Regions from separate parts of the Homo sapiens genome. Here region 1 is linked to region 2. The links come from fine-mapping of genetic effects on gene expression. A gene starts in region 2. The other region holds a variant in brackets. All regions are shown on one strand. Distances are between the middles of the regions.

Region 1 (8,342 bases), 33 kb before region 2:
AAATTTATATTTTATGTAATACATTATAGTTGTGTGCTCTAAATAAACATTTTTACGATGTCCACTTTAATGGATTACATTAGATGAAATTTCCCCACATCTCTCCCTTGCAAAAGGCCTTAAAACACTTATTTTACATTGTGTTGGCTACACAAACTGTACTAGTGCATGTACTAGCACATGAACAGAAAGCTGTTCATGTAAGTAACAGTGTTCTGCAGTCCTTCTAGAGCCATACTAAGAAGGAACTCACCTTGCTGTGTATCGCCAGGTCCACGGAATGGCAAGGACCTTATTCTTGCAGAGCCCTACCAATGCCCTACTTTACTGTAGAGCTGCCTCTGGATTTTAGATCTTCCATTTTTCTTACAAAATTGTTGTTGTTCCTAAAACATGACTATGTCACACTCATTAACCACGAATTTCCCCTTTCCAATGTGCATACTTTGTACTTGTCATTCTTATGACTGGAAACCTACATCAATATTTGCTGAATGACTGCAGGAATTTTTGAGCACACACATTGTATGAAGTTTTTATCTTTTATAGCCACTTTTTAAAGGTTTCTCAGTAAGCTTCACATTTGTATTCAACCTTTGAATGTGGTAAGAAAAAAAAACCATGGATTATTATCATTATTGTCCCTAAACCACGTTTCTTATTTCTTCCTTTGGTTTCTGGACAAGTATAGCTTATTTGACCAGAGGAATATTTAAGGGGGGTAGGGGGTGTACAAACTCTCCATCATTATTCCATCGCCAACTGTAAGAAGGGAGAGTGCAATATTGAAAAGTAACTGCAAGTATGAGATTGATCTAACTTTCTGACATACAAAGGCTTGAGTACCTAAGTTCCTAAAATTATTATTATTATTTATTTATTTATGTTTGAGATGGAGTCTCGCTCTGTTGCCCAGGATGGAGTGCAGTGGCATCATCTCAGCTCACTGCAACCTCCACCTCCTGGGTTCAAGCAATTCTCCTGCCTCAGCCTCCCGAATAGCTGGGATTACAGGCATGTGCCACCATGCCCGGCTAATTTTTGTATTTTTAGTAGAGACAGGGTTTTGCCATGTTGGCCTGGCTGGTCTCGAACACCTGACCTCAGGTGATCCGCCCGCCTCAGCCTCTCAAAGTGCTAGGATTACCAGCGTGAGCCACCGCACCCGGCCCCTGACATTATTTATTTATAAGTGTGGATATGTTCTTCACATTCACAATTACAAAAAACTTTAGAAGTAGAAGGGACCTCAAAGTCATATAGCTAATGTTCTCATTCTGCAAATGAGGGAACTAATGCCTAGTCAGAATAGGTGACTTACTTGGGTCCGAACTAAAACTTAGGTATTTTCTGCTCTGAAAGCAATGATGCTTTCATATTAAGGAAAGAAAAAATATATATTCTACTTTAGAATTTCTTTTTAGGGGTTTTCCCAAGTGTTTTATAAACTGTTTAGCAGCTGACACTATTCCAGTTAGAGAAACAAAAAAAAAATTAATTGCAAACTTCAAATACGTGAGCTATTATTTTAAGAAAAATATTCTCCAGATGTTTCCCAACTCCTTTGAGAGTGGAAAAAAGGCAATGAACTTACAGTTCGGCAGAAGAGATTCGGATTAGATATTAGGAAATCTAATGTGAAATCCTACAATTGGTTACTAGGGAATGTTGTAAAATCTCCTCTGGAGAACCTTTGGAATGTGGTGGTTGGCCACTCATTTCAGAGGCATTATGTGTGTGGTTCATTTCTAGCGCTGGGGGCACAACCTAATTGACTTCTCAAGTTTCGTTGGTCCCATGAGGTCATTATCTGCCTATAGCTAGTACATGGGGATGATTGGCTGCTCTTAATTACAGAATTCAGAATTTGTTAGTGAAGCATATAATTTAGGCTGTTTTACATTTATAGCCATCCCAGTAGATGTAAATGAGCAGATTGACCAAAACCAGTAAATGTTCATTGGATGGTCTTGCCCACTGCCTCCATGTGATTGATTGACCAGAATCTGACAGGCTTATTTATTTGGGCTATTAGTCCATTTTCACACTGCTATAAAGAACTACCTGAGACTGGGTAATTTATAAAGAAAGGAGGTTTAATTGACTCACAGTTCCACATGGCTGGGGAGGCCTCAAGAAACTTATAATCATGATGGAAGGAGAAGGAGAAGCAAGAACTTTCTTCACAAGGTAGCAGGAGAGAGAGAGCACGTGCGCGCAAGGTGCGGGGTTTGGGGGGATCTGCCAAACACTTTTAAACCATCAGATCTCATGAGAACTCACTATCATGAGAATAGCACAGGGTAATCCACTCCCATGATCCAATCACCTCTCTCTAGGTCCCTCCCTTGACATATGGGGATTACAATTTGAGATGAGATTTCGGTGGGGCCACAGAGCCAAACTATATCAGGCTCCATCTCAGCATATTTACCTTGCCAGTGGCTTTGTGACTTAATGAATACTTTAAGCTTGTATTCCTAGTCAGAAAACCAAAGAGTAAGAAAGCCTGTCTAAGAGCTTGTCTTATGTAAGAGAAGAATTCCTTATTTCATGCAAAAGGAGGGCCTTGATATTTGGAAGACAAGATGGAGAAAACTGACTGTACAGTTAGATGGATCTGTACCTTGTAAAACAAAGCTGGAACTTTGTTAGCTAATATATTGGATGGCAGCTCCTACACATAATTAAATAACAATTTTCAATTTTTGACTAGGAATGTAACAGGAATAACTGTATACAGTCTTGAATTTCAGTAAAATAATCAATCATATAAATATAGGATGGGGATATTATCAATTAGAAACTGTAATGTCAAAAAAGACCTAAGAAATGGATATGGGATTAATGATATAAAGTATTTGAAGTATAGTTATGTGTCATTTAACAACAGGAATATGTTCTGAGAGATGCACCATTAACTGATTTTGTCATTGTACAAACATCATGGAGTGTACTTACACAAACCTAGATGGTACCACTTGCTACACACCTTGGCTACATGGCATAGCCTATTAATCCTAAGCTACAAACTTATACAGCATGTTACTGTACTGAGTGCTGTAGGCAACTGTAACACAATGGTAAGTATTTGTGTATCTAAATATATCTAAACATAGAAAAGATAATGCATTGCACCACAGTCATTATGATGGCTAAGACCTCACTAGGTGACAGGAATTTTTCAGCTCCATTATATTCTCATGGGACCACTAGTATAAATATGGTCCTTTGCTGACTGAAGCATCATTATGCACCTCATGACTACATAGTACCTGGGACTTTTTTCCAGTAAATAAAAAACAATGTTGAGATAATGCTGAGTTACTTACCTGAGGGTCATAGATCAATATAGTTAGAGTCATTAATATCTCTTAATACTAATCAATTTTGCAACAAAGGTACATATCCTTGATCAGATGACCCTAAGGTGGGCTTATTTAAAATGATCTTAGCACAACAATAAAAGGTCATGTGCCCATCTTTTATGTTATGACCAAGTTTTGGGATTCATTTTCTCAACATGCCCTCCCTTCCTCCACCACTAATAGTAAACTGCATGTGCACCTCCATATGTGAATCAAGAAAGGTAAGTCTCTCTAAAAGTTGTTTAGATAATTTAAAAAGCAACAAAATTGTACAAAATACTGAGCTGCTTTTTAAATGTTCCCATCATTATTAATATCCAAGTCAAAAATATGAGGGCTTTCTGTCAACAACCTCTGTAGGTAGAATTTTCAATGGGGAGTGAAGCTGAATTAGGTATTTTTGAAAGCCCCTATCAACACACTAAGACTTTTGATGATGAGGATCCATCAGTAAATATTGAGAAGTCAAATTATTCTTGTCCTCAGAAAGCTTACAATCATGTTTAGTCTAATGGACAAAAAACAACAAGAAAAAAACATAAGCTTGGTTACAATTACATTTGACTTTGTATTAAACTTTAGGAGAATAACAATGATGGAGAAGGTGGGGAAGGCTTCACAGAGGAGGCAGGAATAGAACTGGTCTGGAGGAAAGAAGGTGTTATGGGCTGAGTTGCATCCCCCAGAATGCATATGTTGAACCTCAAGTACCTCAGAATTTAAGCATATTTGAAAATAGGGCCTTTAAAGAGGAAATTAAGTTAAAATGAGGTCACTAGGGTGACCAGTGTGGCTGGTAAATAAGAAGAGGCAATTAGGACACAGACACATGGAAGAAAGACTGTGTGAAGACGCAGGGAGGTGACTGCCATCTACAAGCCAAGGCGAGAGGCTCCAGCAGAATCCAACTCTGCCAATATCTTGATCTTGAACTTCAATGTCTCTAGAACTGTGAGAAAATTAATTTCTATTGAGCCACCCAGTCTGAGATACTTTGTTATGACAACCAGAGAAAACTATATGGTAGGACTGAAATCTACAGAGAAATAAAAGGAAAATAATTATCTTCCAGGAAAAAAGAATATCGTAAATAAAGAATTCAAAATGAGGTCAGGCATGGATGAAGAACATACTTTTGAAATGAGTCTATATTAGTGAAAGGTACCTTCAACTAACATTGTAGTAAACAGGACTCTTTCCTTTTTTCCCCATACGTTGTCTTAAGAAAGATACATCTCTCAACCTTCACATCTCTATCCAAAATTTACTTCCTCAGATGTCATTCCCTACCGTTCTTTCCAAAACATCGGAGCTCTTCCACTCTGTCATTATTGAACCCTTTATCCTGCTGCTATACATTGAATGTTTATGTCCCCAAATTCATATGTTAAAATATGACACCCCCCTCCGAAAGTGATGGTATTAGGAGGTGGGGCCTATGGGAGATAATTAGATCATGAGTGCAAAGTC[C/T]TCATGAACAGAATTAGTGCTCATATAAAAGAGACTCCAGAGAGCTCCCTTGCCCCTTTTATCATGTAAGGATACAGCAAAATGGTGTCATCTATGAACCAGAAAGTGGGTCTTCACTAGACAACCAATCTGCTGGCACCTTGATCTTGAACTTCCCAGCCTCATGAACACTGAGAAATTGCTGTTCTTTATAAACCACTCAACCTATGGTATTTTGCTACAGCAGCCCTAATGACTAAGACACCTGCATTGCTTTTTCAAAGCACTCAAATCTCAAATTATAAAATGTATTTTTAACATTTATCACCTGTCTCTCCACACTAGACTGTGAGTTCAATAAGATAATACCTCCACTCTCTAATTCACCACTGTATCTCCAATACTCAGAACATTTCCTGTTCTGAGTGTTCAATAGGTGTTCAATAGGTATATCTAATGAATGAATTGCCCTGAGAAATGCAATCAAGAGAGAATTTTCTTTGAGAGGCATGGAAAAACCAGGAAGGCAATTCTGGTGAACACTGGAAGAGGATTCTGCCTGACTTTCCCTTGCTTTAGGGTGGCAAATCTGAGGGTCTTGAGAGACTACAAATCTTGTACAAGTAGGAGGCACAGAGGACCAGCCCAGGAACTGATTAGAGAGGCTTATACACACCACACACAACAGAGACACACATACATACACAAAGACATGCTGTGTTAGCCTATGTGAAAGGGAAAGTTGGATTCAAGGCAAGGACCAACAGATTAAATATTTAAACATTCTTCTGTATAGTAAGCCAATGAGGATAAACGTACAAATAGAATGCTGATGAGCATTTAAAATATCTATCACATTATTCTGTTAATATATGTATCACATTACTCTGTTATGTACATTACAGGTCATATGAGGAATCTGAAATTCTCTGCAGCCCTGCTCAAATATAGGAAGCCATTTAGGGCTGTTCAAAGTATCTAGGATTGGTTATTCTTGACACATGAATGAATGACTGCCTTGGTTCAGCTGTTCTTTTTCTAAATCATTTTTAACAAGTGCATTTTAATGGCCATTACTGTTTTATTCATGTTAGGTTATCATTATTGCAGTTAACCTCACATTTACTTTGCTAGTATCTTTCTTTGAAAATCTTTGACATTTTAGTTGGTTTTGATTTGTCTTTCTGGTCACACTCCATTAATAATAACTTAAATCTGAATAGTCCTTTTTGGCTTATGAAGAATTCATATTATCATTTGTACCCCTGAACAGCTCTGAGGGATGGGCAGAGATTATAATTGCTATTTTACAGGTAAGAAAACTGAGGCTTAGTGAAGATAAAGGACTTGTCCAAGGTCATAGGCATGAAGAATGGCAGAGCCAAAACTTAAATAAAAGTCTTTTGACTTCTTTGACAGTGCTTTTGTCATATGACATGACACCCATCACTAAGCCAGCCTGGCTGGCAAAGATTCAATGTTCACACACATTAGATATGCTTATGTTCAAGAACACAAATACACACACACACACACACCCACACCCACACACACACACACCAGCTGTCAAACAAATAGAAATCAAAGAAAATATTAAGGAGAACTCACAATATTATTGTGTCCCACATTCTCAGAAAGAGAGGCATGAAAACCCACTATCACAATTTCTTCCCAGCAAAAATTCCAAGGCTCCTTCTTTCTTGCCAGGTGTTTGTATAAAGTTACCCAAATTTGATGTTCTTTTGAGTGATTTGGGAGAACCCCCATACCACTTTGACCACCAAAAATATCCTCAGGGACAGGAGAAAAATTAGTAGGAATAAGTAAAGCAGTAAATTCTAACCAGGGCCCTTATATAAATATTCACGTTAAAACTGAACAAAGTTTATTTAGATAAAGAGCCAGAGAAATGGCAGAAGGCAGACCTAAAGAGCTGGTTTACAGGACAGATATGCTGAGCCTATGAGAGGAAATAATTCAACTGGTATTCTTCCAGGCATTTCATCTCCTTCCAGTTTTCCAGTATTTCATTAGATTGTCCTGGTTTAAAGATTATGAAGTATAATCCAACATATCCACTGAATTGATGGAAGGCTGAAGGGCCAAACATGCTAGCTTATTATTAAAGACTTCACCACAAGTCTGGGGTTCCATAATTAAATTCATTCATCCCCAAAAGTAGAATTAAGTACCAGCTTATACATTACCAGATATTACCACACATTTCTGGTATGGATTAACACTTTCAGATCTCTAGTAACTGTCTTACAGACATTGAATGTTAGAGCTAGAAAAGACTTAAGGGAACATCCAAGTCATATTTTAATAAATGAAGAACTTAAAGAAATTTGTTTAGATGCACATAACTAGACAAGGAATAAGTACTGATCTTTGAGTGAAAAAAGCAAAAAATAGAAGTGTGTATAGTATACTGCAATTTATGTTTGAAAGGGATGTATATGATATGTGCATATCCACAGACTATCTGAAAAATATGAGGAAAAATTGTTGCTTCAAACATAAGGGATTTTAGATACTGGAGAACAGAAGTAGGAGGAAAATTTACTTTTTACTAGATATCCTTTGCTACTCAATAACAGTTTACACATCTGTCACCCCCACTAAGAGTACAAACTCCTTGATGGTAAGGCCCACCAGCCATATTATATTCATCTTAGTAATCCAAAATGGGCCTAGCAACTGTTTCTTCATTTTTTCCAGGGAAAAAATGATTTGTTAGTGTATTTAGAAAGATTGTAAAGCTTGAATTTTGTGATAGGGATTCATTTTAAATATTTTATTAGGTGTTTTATTAACCAATCCTTTTGTAGCCTGTATACACTCTTGGCATTACCCTGGAATAGGATATTGCAAAATCAACGCACATTTTCTAAGAAGTAGAAAACTATGATCCAGAATTAAGTAAGGCAAAAGCAAAGAAAACAACTCTCAAGAAGATGGAAATTGAATTATTTACAGACAGAAGTTTCTTCAAAGTTTTCCAGAAGATACTTACATTAAAAATTGTGAGAAATTTGCCACTTCTCTCTCTCTCTCTCCAGCATTATGATGACATGTCCCTTAAGATTCAAATTTTCATTAAGTCCCTTTATACATTGTGAGCATGGAGTTCGTGTATGCCCAGCATTAGAACTACAGAGGGCAGGGAGTGGGCAGGCAGAATATTGAACAGACCTAAGTGTGTATCACACTTGCCCTCTAGTGTGCATTTGCCAACAATGCACTTCTCTGGGCTGTCTGGTTTTAAGCCTAGGGCGTTTCCAAACAGAGGTCTTTTCAAGCTGGTTTTTATAAACAGATAAGCCCCATTTATATTAATTCTGTTTACTGCTAATTTGTAAAGAGTGCTATTAATGGGCTTAGAAGCAGCGTATTCTTATTAATAGTTAAACATCTCCCTCTTATTCATACAACTCTTGCTTTGTAAACTTTCTTTCACAAAAGGACAAAGATAGACTTTAATGGTCCAATTAACCAATTTCTAAACTAATGAATTCATAGTAT
Region 2 (8,342 bases):
TCAAGTGAGACAAGCATTCTCAGGTCGGTGTCAGTGTCAGCCTGAGAGTGACTGCCTCCTTAAATCTGGTATCCTAGGTCTCTGCTTGCCTCACCCTAGTCCCAGCACAGTATCTCATGGAGTTATGATTAAATGAATTAAGATATAAGAGGCATAGAGAGGTACATACAACATGCTATTGTTGATATTGTTACTACCATTATTGTCTACATGATGCAAAAGTTTGAATGCATTATGATGGTTCCTGAAGTACACTTATAGGCTGGGCTTATTGACTAAGAACCTCTGCACTGATTAAGACCTTTTCATTGTGTGGTGAGCATTCACGAAACAGCCTTCAAACTTTATCGCTCTCTTACTAATTCAGTTTTTGCCAACCTTTCACATCATGGCATCCATAGAAAATGGTAATATCTGTACAACACTAGAGTGAAAAGATGATGATACCCTCAACCTGAGGCAACTGCCCCAAGGTCACTGCTTCCTCCAAAGACTGCAGGGGTCAGTCTTCAGCCCACCCATGCCAGGTGGGAAGCTCTGCTCAAATCCATTATTCATCCTGCACAGTAATACCAATTTAGCTTTCCTAAAACAATACTTCCATCATGTCCTTTGCCTCTAATAACAACGACAAAAATCCAGAATTCTTGGTCTGATACTCAAGATTAAGGCATGGAGTTGGAAGAGACCACAGGAATCATGAAATTGCTCCCCTTTATTTTACAGACTCACAAAGAAATGCCCAGCAAAGTTTAATAACTTATTCAAAGCAACATTGCAATCTTTCTGCCAAGGAACTATCATTTACCCTATCCATTTTTGCCGACAGACATCCATTGTCAAGTGCTACCTCCCAGTTCGCCCCATTGGGAAATGAATGCTTCCTCCTTTAAACTCTAATAATACTCATTCAGATACTGAACAGTAAGAGGGAGCAGAAAAAGACCTAATAGTTATTTCAGCCTGAGCTTCCCTGTGTTAGATGATATGATCAGATACTGGAGAGTACGGTTTTACAATACACTGATTTATAAACCAGGATGCCTATTCACTAATAACCAATTCACTAATAACAGAACAAACAGAACAGAAATGGATGCTACAACTTAGGTTGGCTATTCAATATAATCTGGGGTCAGTAAACTTTTTTCTGTAAAGTTAGAGCAAATATATGAGGGAATAGTAATAAATAGTAAATATATGAGGGCTACAGTCTCTGCTGCATATTTTTCTTTACGTTTTTGTTGTTGTCGTTGTTGTTTTGTTCTGTTTCTTACAATGCTTTAAAAATGTAAAAAATGGCTGGACACAGTGGCTTAGGCCTCTAATACCAACACTTTGGCAGGCTGGAGTGGGAGGACTGCTTGAAGCCAGGTGTTAAAGACCAGCCTGGGCAGCAAAATGAGACGCCATATCTACAAAAAACAAAAACAACAACAAAATAACCAAGAATGGTGGCATGTGCCTGTAGTCCCAGCTACTCGGGAGGCTGAGGCGAGGTGGAATATAATGTAAGACCATTCATAGTTCATGGTACAAAACAGGTATCAATTCCCATTAATGCATAGACACTCCATAATTTAGTATTGCCAGACTTCTTTTTTTTTTTTTTTTTTTTTTTTTTGAGACCGAGTTTCGCTTTTGTCAACCAGGCTGGAGTGTAATGGCACCATCTCGGCTCACCGCAACCTCCACTTCCCGGGTTTAAGCAATTCGCCTACCTCAGACTCTCAAGTAGCTGGAATTACAGGCGCCTGCCACCATGCCCGGCTAATTTTTGTATTTTTAGTAGAGATGGGTTTCGCCATTTTGGCCAGGCTGGTCTGGAATTCTTGACCTCAGGTGATTCACCCACCTCGGCCTCCCAAAGCGTTGGGATTACAGGCTTGAGCCACCGCGCCCGGCCCATACTTCTTAATTTTGTGATTTATTGCCTGAAAAACGGTCTCGCTGTGGTGTTTTTTTTGTATTTCCCAGATTAATAATCAGACTGAATTCTTTTCATGTTTATTAGCCATAGCAACTCCTCTTCCACACTGGCATTTCTTATCTTTTTCAAAAATCTATTAATCACGAAAATCTCGTCATCTACATTTCTTCACAAAAGCCATATTACTTTTGATCTTTATAGATTATTTTACATTTGCCATATTTATACATAATATCTTCCCTTTTGGGGCATTTAGAGTGTGCGGACAAAGTCTAGGCAGTAATGCATTTATAAAACATCTATGAGTTGGGTGCACACGGGGTAATTTTCCACATATGGCTAATCCTAGCCTCATCAGATTAAGTTTCCCTGTCTTGTCATTTCCGAGGATGTATCCTATTAGAAGTCTAGCCCTTTATTCCTACAAATTGAATTTCCACTACTGTAGGCTAACATCTGAATGGACTCATCTTACTATTCCATGCATAGTACCAGGCACGTTGCGTGCTTTTACTACATTTTGTATAATTTTTACGTCTGTGTTTGATGTCCTGAAAAATACCGTCCACAATTACTTCACAGCTAGCCCCAGCACTTGGCGCCCAGCGGGTTTTCCTAGTCCCTCCCTGCCAAATCACGTTGGGACTGAGACAAGAGGCACTGCGGGTCTCTTACCTATAGTTACGAAGCAATGGACTCCCTTATTACTTCGTTTCCCAAATAGGGGGTGGGACACACAACCGAGGGAGTATGAGGAAAACAACTTGCGGGTCTTCGAGCCACTTGCGTCTTTCTGTGGGCGAGCCTTTCCAGGCCAATTACATTTTCTTTACTCATATTGCATAAATAGCAGAACTACATTTACCACAAAGGCCCGACATTCATGGTCATGGATCCTTGCGCATGTTTTCTAAGAGCAAACTGTACAAACACATAAACTCTGAAACACTGACGCACAAGCGAAAACACACGCACATGTTTGGGTCTTCTCCCGCTGCGCAAGTTCTTTGAAACTGAGCGGAGAAAAATCGTCTTCACATGGTGTCTCACACTTTCGACACAATCTTATCGGGAAACGTAACACGTAAACAAAATTTTTTAAAATGCATTATCAAAAACGATGACAATCCCTTTCGTCTTATGTTCCTTTTTGTCTTTAAGCTTTGGGGGGATTTATGTTGCGTTTCCAAACTGCTTCTGCCTGTCGGCGCCTGTGTGGAAACTGCGACGAGTCTGGGAGCGGCTGCCGGAGAGGCGGGGCAGAGGTGTGACGTCATCGCCGCGGGGCGGAGGCGACAGTGTCTAGCGGGAGCTCCGCGTGTAGCTACGCCGGCCGCCTGGCTTTGAGACAACGTGATTCTCCGCAGCTGGTCGCCTACCCGTGATGTTCTGCCCACGTCGAGACCTGAGCTGAAATGGCAGACGATCTCGGAGACGAGTGGTGGGAGAACCAGCCGACTGGAGCAGGCAGCAGCCCAGGTACCCACTCTGTGCCCGCGCTCCTACGGGGCCTCTCCCGGAGCCCTTCCGTGCGCCTCAGCCCTGGTCGCTTCTGGCGATCGCGGTGTTTGCCCAGCAGGGGTGTGCACCGCCTTGGGAGCGCGCAAGCATCTCGGGGAAAATGGTGCAAGAGATTCTTTAACACGTGAAACAGACAGCTGTGACATTAACTCAGATCTGTCTGCCAGCCAGGAAGGATCCTTTCCACAAGCTTTCTCTTTTCCTTATTTCTTGAGAATGGATAAGACAGTTTTTGTGAAGAGAGGCAACTTTGTATGATGGTTAAGGGTGACCCATGAACTGCTTTCAATTCAGACTGAGGTCAGAAGCAGGGGTTGCTGCTTCAGACTCCCTCCATTCAAATCACGACTCCAGTATTCTGATACTGTTTAGCCTCCTTTTCCTCATCTGTAAAATAATGATAACAATAATGTCCATTTCGTAAAGTTGTGAAGATTAAGTGAAGTTAGTACAGTAATGCACTTTAGCATAGTGCTTGACATATAATGTGTGGTAAATATAAGTTACTGTATTTCTTGTGGTCATCATCATTATCATGGAATTTGGAATAGTAGAACTGGAAGGAGGCTTAAATAGAGATCATCCTTTGAACTCACTTATTTTACAGATGAGAAACATAACCTAAAGATGTCAAGTAACTTGACAAGTTCACAAAGCTAGCTCCTTTCAGAAACAATACTAGAATTCAGTTAACACAATTTGAATAGTTTCTACTATGCTCTGCTGTGTTTACCAACTCCTGATGCAGTGGGCATTTCATCCCCAAGTAGAGTAGCGTTAAGTGACCCCCCATGTCAGGCTAGCCTTGAACTTTTTAAGTTCCATCACACCTACCATGCAATTATTGGTTGGTTGGTTTTTATCACTCCTCAAGGTCTGCCTCTTTTCTCTACAAGAGAAGACAGGGCCAAAGTCAGATTCATACTTCTGTCATCCACAGGGCCCTGCACATGTTAGACACTTGATACCTATTTGCTGCAAACAATCTTGAAATACTAGTTGTGAAATATCCATTAAAAATAACCAACTTCATTTGTTGCATTGTTTCCGGAAGGTCAAGCCTTCAGGTACAAACTAAGCAGATGTCATTTTTAGAAAGGTAGCCAATACAACATTTCCTTGATTAAACTTCCTGACTCTTTTGCAGCCCTGTGGTGTTCCACATTTACTTTAATAACTACCCCTCCCAACTCAGGTGTTAAAAAGCTCTATTTTATGATATGATTGAAGATGAACAGAGGCCATTTAAGAAATAGTTGAATTCTGTTTGAGTGGTGAAGGGGATCCCAATTCTTGGTTCTAGTCCTCACTAGCTGTGTGACTTTCAAGTTATTCATCCGTTGGAAGAAAGGCAGTCAACATGTATTGAGTATCTATTATGTGACAAATGTCTTCATAAATATGAATTGATTTAACTTTCATAACATCCCGAAAAGGTAAGTATTCTCTTCATTTGTATAGGTGAAGAAACAGAAAAAAGTTAAGTCGTGTTCTTAGGAACACACATTGAAGAAGAGGTCTGGGAAGAGTTTAGTCAAGTGTGATTGATTTTGAAAGTCACGCTTTTCCCGCTACTACTTTGTGACTTCTCTGGGCCTTTGTATCATAATCTGTAAAGAGCCCTTAAAGATCATCTTTTTTAGGGTTTTACCAACCAACAGTTTTTTTTTTCTTTTTTTTTTTTTTTGACACGGAGTCTCCCTCTGTCGCCCAGGCTGGAGTGCAGTGGCACGATCTCGGCTCACTGCAACCTCTGCCTCCTGGGTTCAAGCGATTCTCCTGCCTCAGCCTCCCAAGTAACTGGGATTACAGGTGCCCGCCACCACACCCAGCTAATTTTTGTATTTTTAGTAGAGACGGGGTTTCACCATGTTGGCCAGGCTGGTCTTGATCTCTTGACCTCGTGATCTGCCCACCTCGGCCTCCCAAAGTGCTGGGATTACAGGCGTGAGCCACCGTGCCTGGCCCCCAACAGTTTTAAACACTGAATCTAGTAAAACTTTAAATCGCTACAGCCTCCTTCATCTAAGTTGCCAGAATTCTCATGAAGACAGTGTGTTGGAGTGCCTAAGATTGCTCTACTTCTTACATTCCTTCTAGCCATAAGACTAACCCTTTTTTTTTTTTTGAGACGAAGTCTCACTCTTGTCCCCCAGTCTGGAGTACAGTGGTGCGATCTCAGTTCACTGCAACCTCCACCTCCTGGGTTCAAGCGATTCTCCTGCCTCAGCCTCCCGAGTAGTTGGGATTACAGGAGCCTGCCACCACCCCCAGCTAATTTTTGTATTTTTAGTAGAGATGGGGTTTCACCATGTTGGCCAGGCTGGTCTTGAGCTCCTGACCTGAAGTGATCTGCTCGCCTTGGCCTCCCAAAGTGCTGGGATTACAGGTGTGAATCACCGCACCCGGCCAAGACTAAGCTTTGAAAATTGCTGGCATTAAATTTATCAGAGGCCTTTGCTTTGTTCGCTGCTCTTAAGCAAAGTAAGTATATGCCTTTATTTGAAATATCCTTGATTATTCACTGGCAATTTGCCTAATTGTAATCTGTACAGCGTTTCTAATTCAAAAGAAATCACAGCTGAACCACAGATTTCCTGATTCTTCTTTTGTTGATGGGATCTAGCCTTGATCCTAGAGCACAAGGCTTACTTACCTGGCTGCCTTCTTGAAGTCTTTACTTAAGTTATTTGATAGGGATGTCAAATGTATTCAATTGTTGTTTCAGCCTAAAGTATGTGAATTATGTTTTGTTTTGAAAGTTGAAGGAGAAATAATATGTTAAATCAGAGAAAGGAAAGATAGTTGTATTGGTGCTTTTATTCCTGTTGTGGATTATGCTACCTGCCTATAAAAATAAACATTTTTGCTATAATCTGTTCCCACTTGACATCCATGGTAGCAAGGCAGTGGAAGATTTCAGTCACTTACAAATACTTGTTGGTTGTACATGGTTTATAACATCTATCTAATGTGCCTATCTGTTTGTTGTCTGTCTAAGGAACTGTACTATTTTTTGGCTGTTATCATGTCTTCTTAGATGTGGTATGTAACAAAGTTTTCATGGCTCTTTAAAACCTGTCATTTTTGTGCTAGAGTTCTACATTGCACTGGAGCTCAACATGGGACCTGGCACTTAATTGGTGTTTGGTGGATGTTGGCAGAATAAATATATGTGTGTATGCGTGTTACCTGCTACAGAGTATGTAGGCAGACATATAATTTCTCATCCAATCTAGACACTTTTGTGAGTGGAAGGCTATGCAATTAGAATTTTGCAGGGACTCTCCTGGTCCTTAAGGGATGTCTAGTCACTCCATTGGTGGCAATTGGAGTCATGGCCCAACATAAGACAGCTGGGAGTTACAGTGCTGAGTGTGCAGCCCAGGATGCCTTAGGCATAAGACCCCAGGAATCATCTAATGGCATCTAATATTTGATTTATTTCCTTATTCCCTGTAAACCTTCAGCAACTGTTTGAAGTGACTTATAGTAAGTAATACATTCAGTAGAATAATGATGTGAAAATATTAATGCTGAAATGAGCAAACACAATGCCTGAGATTTTAATGTAGTTGACCGGTCTGGGTACTTTCTCAGTGTGAAGCTGAAAACTGAGAGAATGTCAATCACAGCATGGATTTCGTGACTTAAGGAAGAGAGCCAAGGGATTCTGCAGTTGAAAATGTCACTTGAGGGCCTGTAATCCCAGCACTTTGGGAGGCCAAGGTGGGCAGATCACCTGAGTCCAGGAGTTTGAGACCAGCCTGGCCAACATGGAGAAAACCTGTCTCTACTAAAAAGACAAAAATTAGCCAGGTGTGGTAGCAGGCACTTGTAGTCCCAGCTACTCAGGAGGCTGAGGCAGGAGTATTGCTTGAACCCAGGAGGTGGAGCTTGCGACGAGCCAAGATCGCACCACTGCACTCCAGCCTGTGCTACAGACTGAGACTCTGTCTCAAAAAAAAGAAAAAAGAAAATGTTACTTGATCATTTACTCACTGAAGATGAAGAGAATACTAATTGCTTTCCCTTTTTATTTCAATGACATACCTATTAAATTACCAAGTCGAGTACCCAGTAGGCAGCTAAGTATGTGAGTCTGGAGCCCCAGGGCCAGATCCAGGCTGAGATACAGATTTAGGAATAACTGGCATACAGATAGGTTATTTTTAAAGAGCATGTTCTTAGCAGTCTGTAACATTGAGCCTCCATGTCTTTTAAGGAGGGTCTTTCATATGCCTCCCCAACTCATTCTGAATCTTTGATGACATCTCTTCCCAAGCACCTAACTAGAAAACTGAAGTGTTAAGACACTGCTATGTACAGTGCCAGGAGACTGCAGGTAATAATACCAGCTTGCGGCCAGGCGCAGTGGCTCACGCCTGTAGTCCCTACACTTTGGGAGGCTGAGGCAGGTGGATCACCTGAGGTCAGGAGTTTGAGAACAGCCTGGCCAATGTGATGAAACCCTGTCTCTACTAAAACTACAAAAAATTAGCTGGGCGTGGTGGCACGCACCTGTAATCCCAGCTACTCAGGAGACTGAGGCAGGAGAATTGCTTGAACCCAGGAGGCGGGGGTTGCAGTGAGCCGAGGTCGTGCCACTGCACTCCAGCCTGGGCAATAAGAACAAAACTCCATCTCAAAATAATAATGATAATAATAATAATAGTAATAATACCAGCTTGCATTTGTTGAGCACTTAACTACCTGCCAGATGCTGTTTTGATTGCTTTACATGTTCTAGTTAATTTAATCTTCCCAAGTACACCAGCGGTAGTTACTGTTGTTATCTTTATTTTACTGATGAGGAAGTTGAGACACTGAGAAATTAAGTGATTTACTTAATACTATTTAATTTAATTCACCCAATACTATCTATTTAATT

The links. PIP is the estimated chance that this variant, and not a neighbour inherited with it, causes the effect.
Region 1: its variant is fine-mapped to the expression of CMSS1 in nasal epithelium (TOPMed, PIP 0.91).

The regions. Positions count from the first base shown.
Region 1 is chr3:99,781,521-99,789,862 of GRCh38, forward strand. All of the region lies in intron 2 of COL8A1 (collagen type VIII alpha 1 chain), which reads left to right. Among named protein-coding and RNA genes, the nearest start is that of CMSS1, 32 kb to the right of the region's middle. The variant C/T (reference allele first, on the strand shown) is at 4,839.
Region 2 is chr3:99,814,635-99,822,976 of GRCh38, forward strand. It overlaps CMSS1 (cms1 ribosomal small subunit homolog), which reads left to right and starts at 3,228. Exons shown (of 10, transcript NM_032359.4): 1 at 3,228-3,409. The coding sequence starts at 3,346. It overlaps HP09053 (a long non-coding RNA gene), which reads right to left. Exons shown (of 3, transcript NR_110821.1): 2 at 4,286-4,340; 3 at 1,998-3,838. It overlaps LOC105374010 (a long non-coding RNA gene), which reads left to right and starts at 3,228. Exons shown (of 5, transcript NR_189163.1): 1 at 3,228-3,409. RefSeq lists a silencer at 2,909-3,663 and enhancers at 3,079-3,953, 3,185-3,494.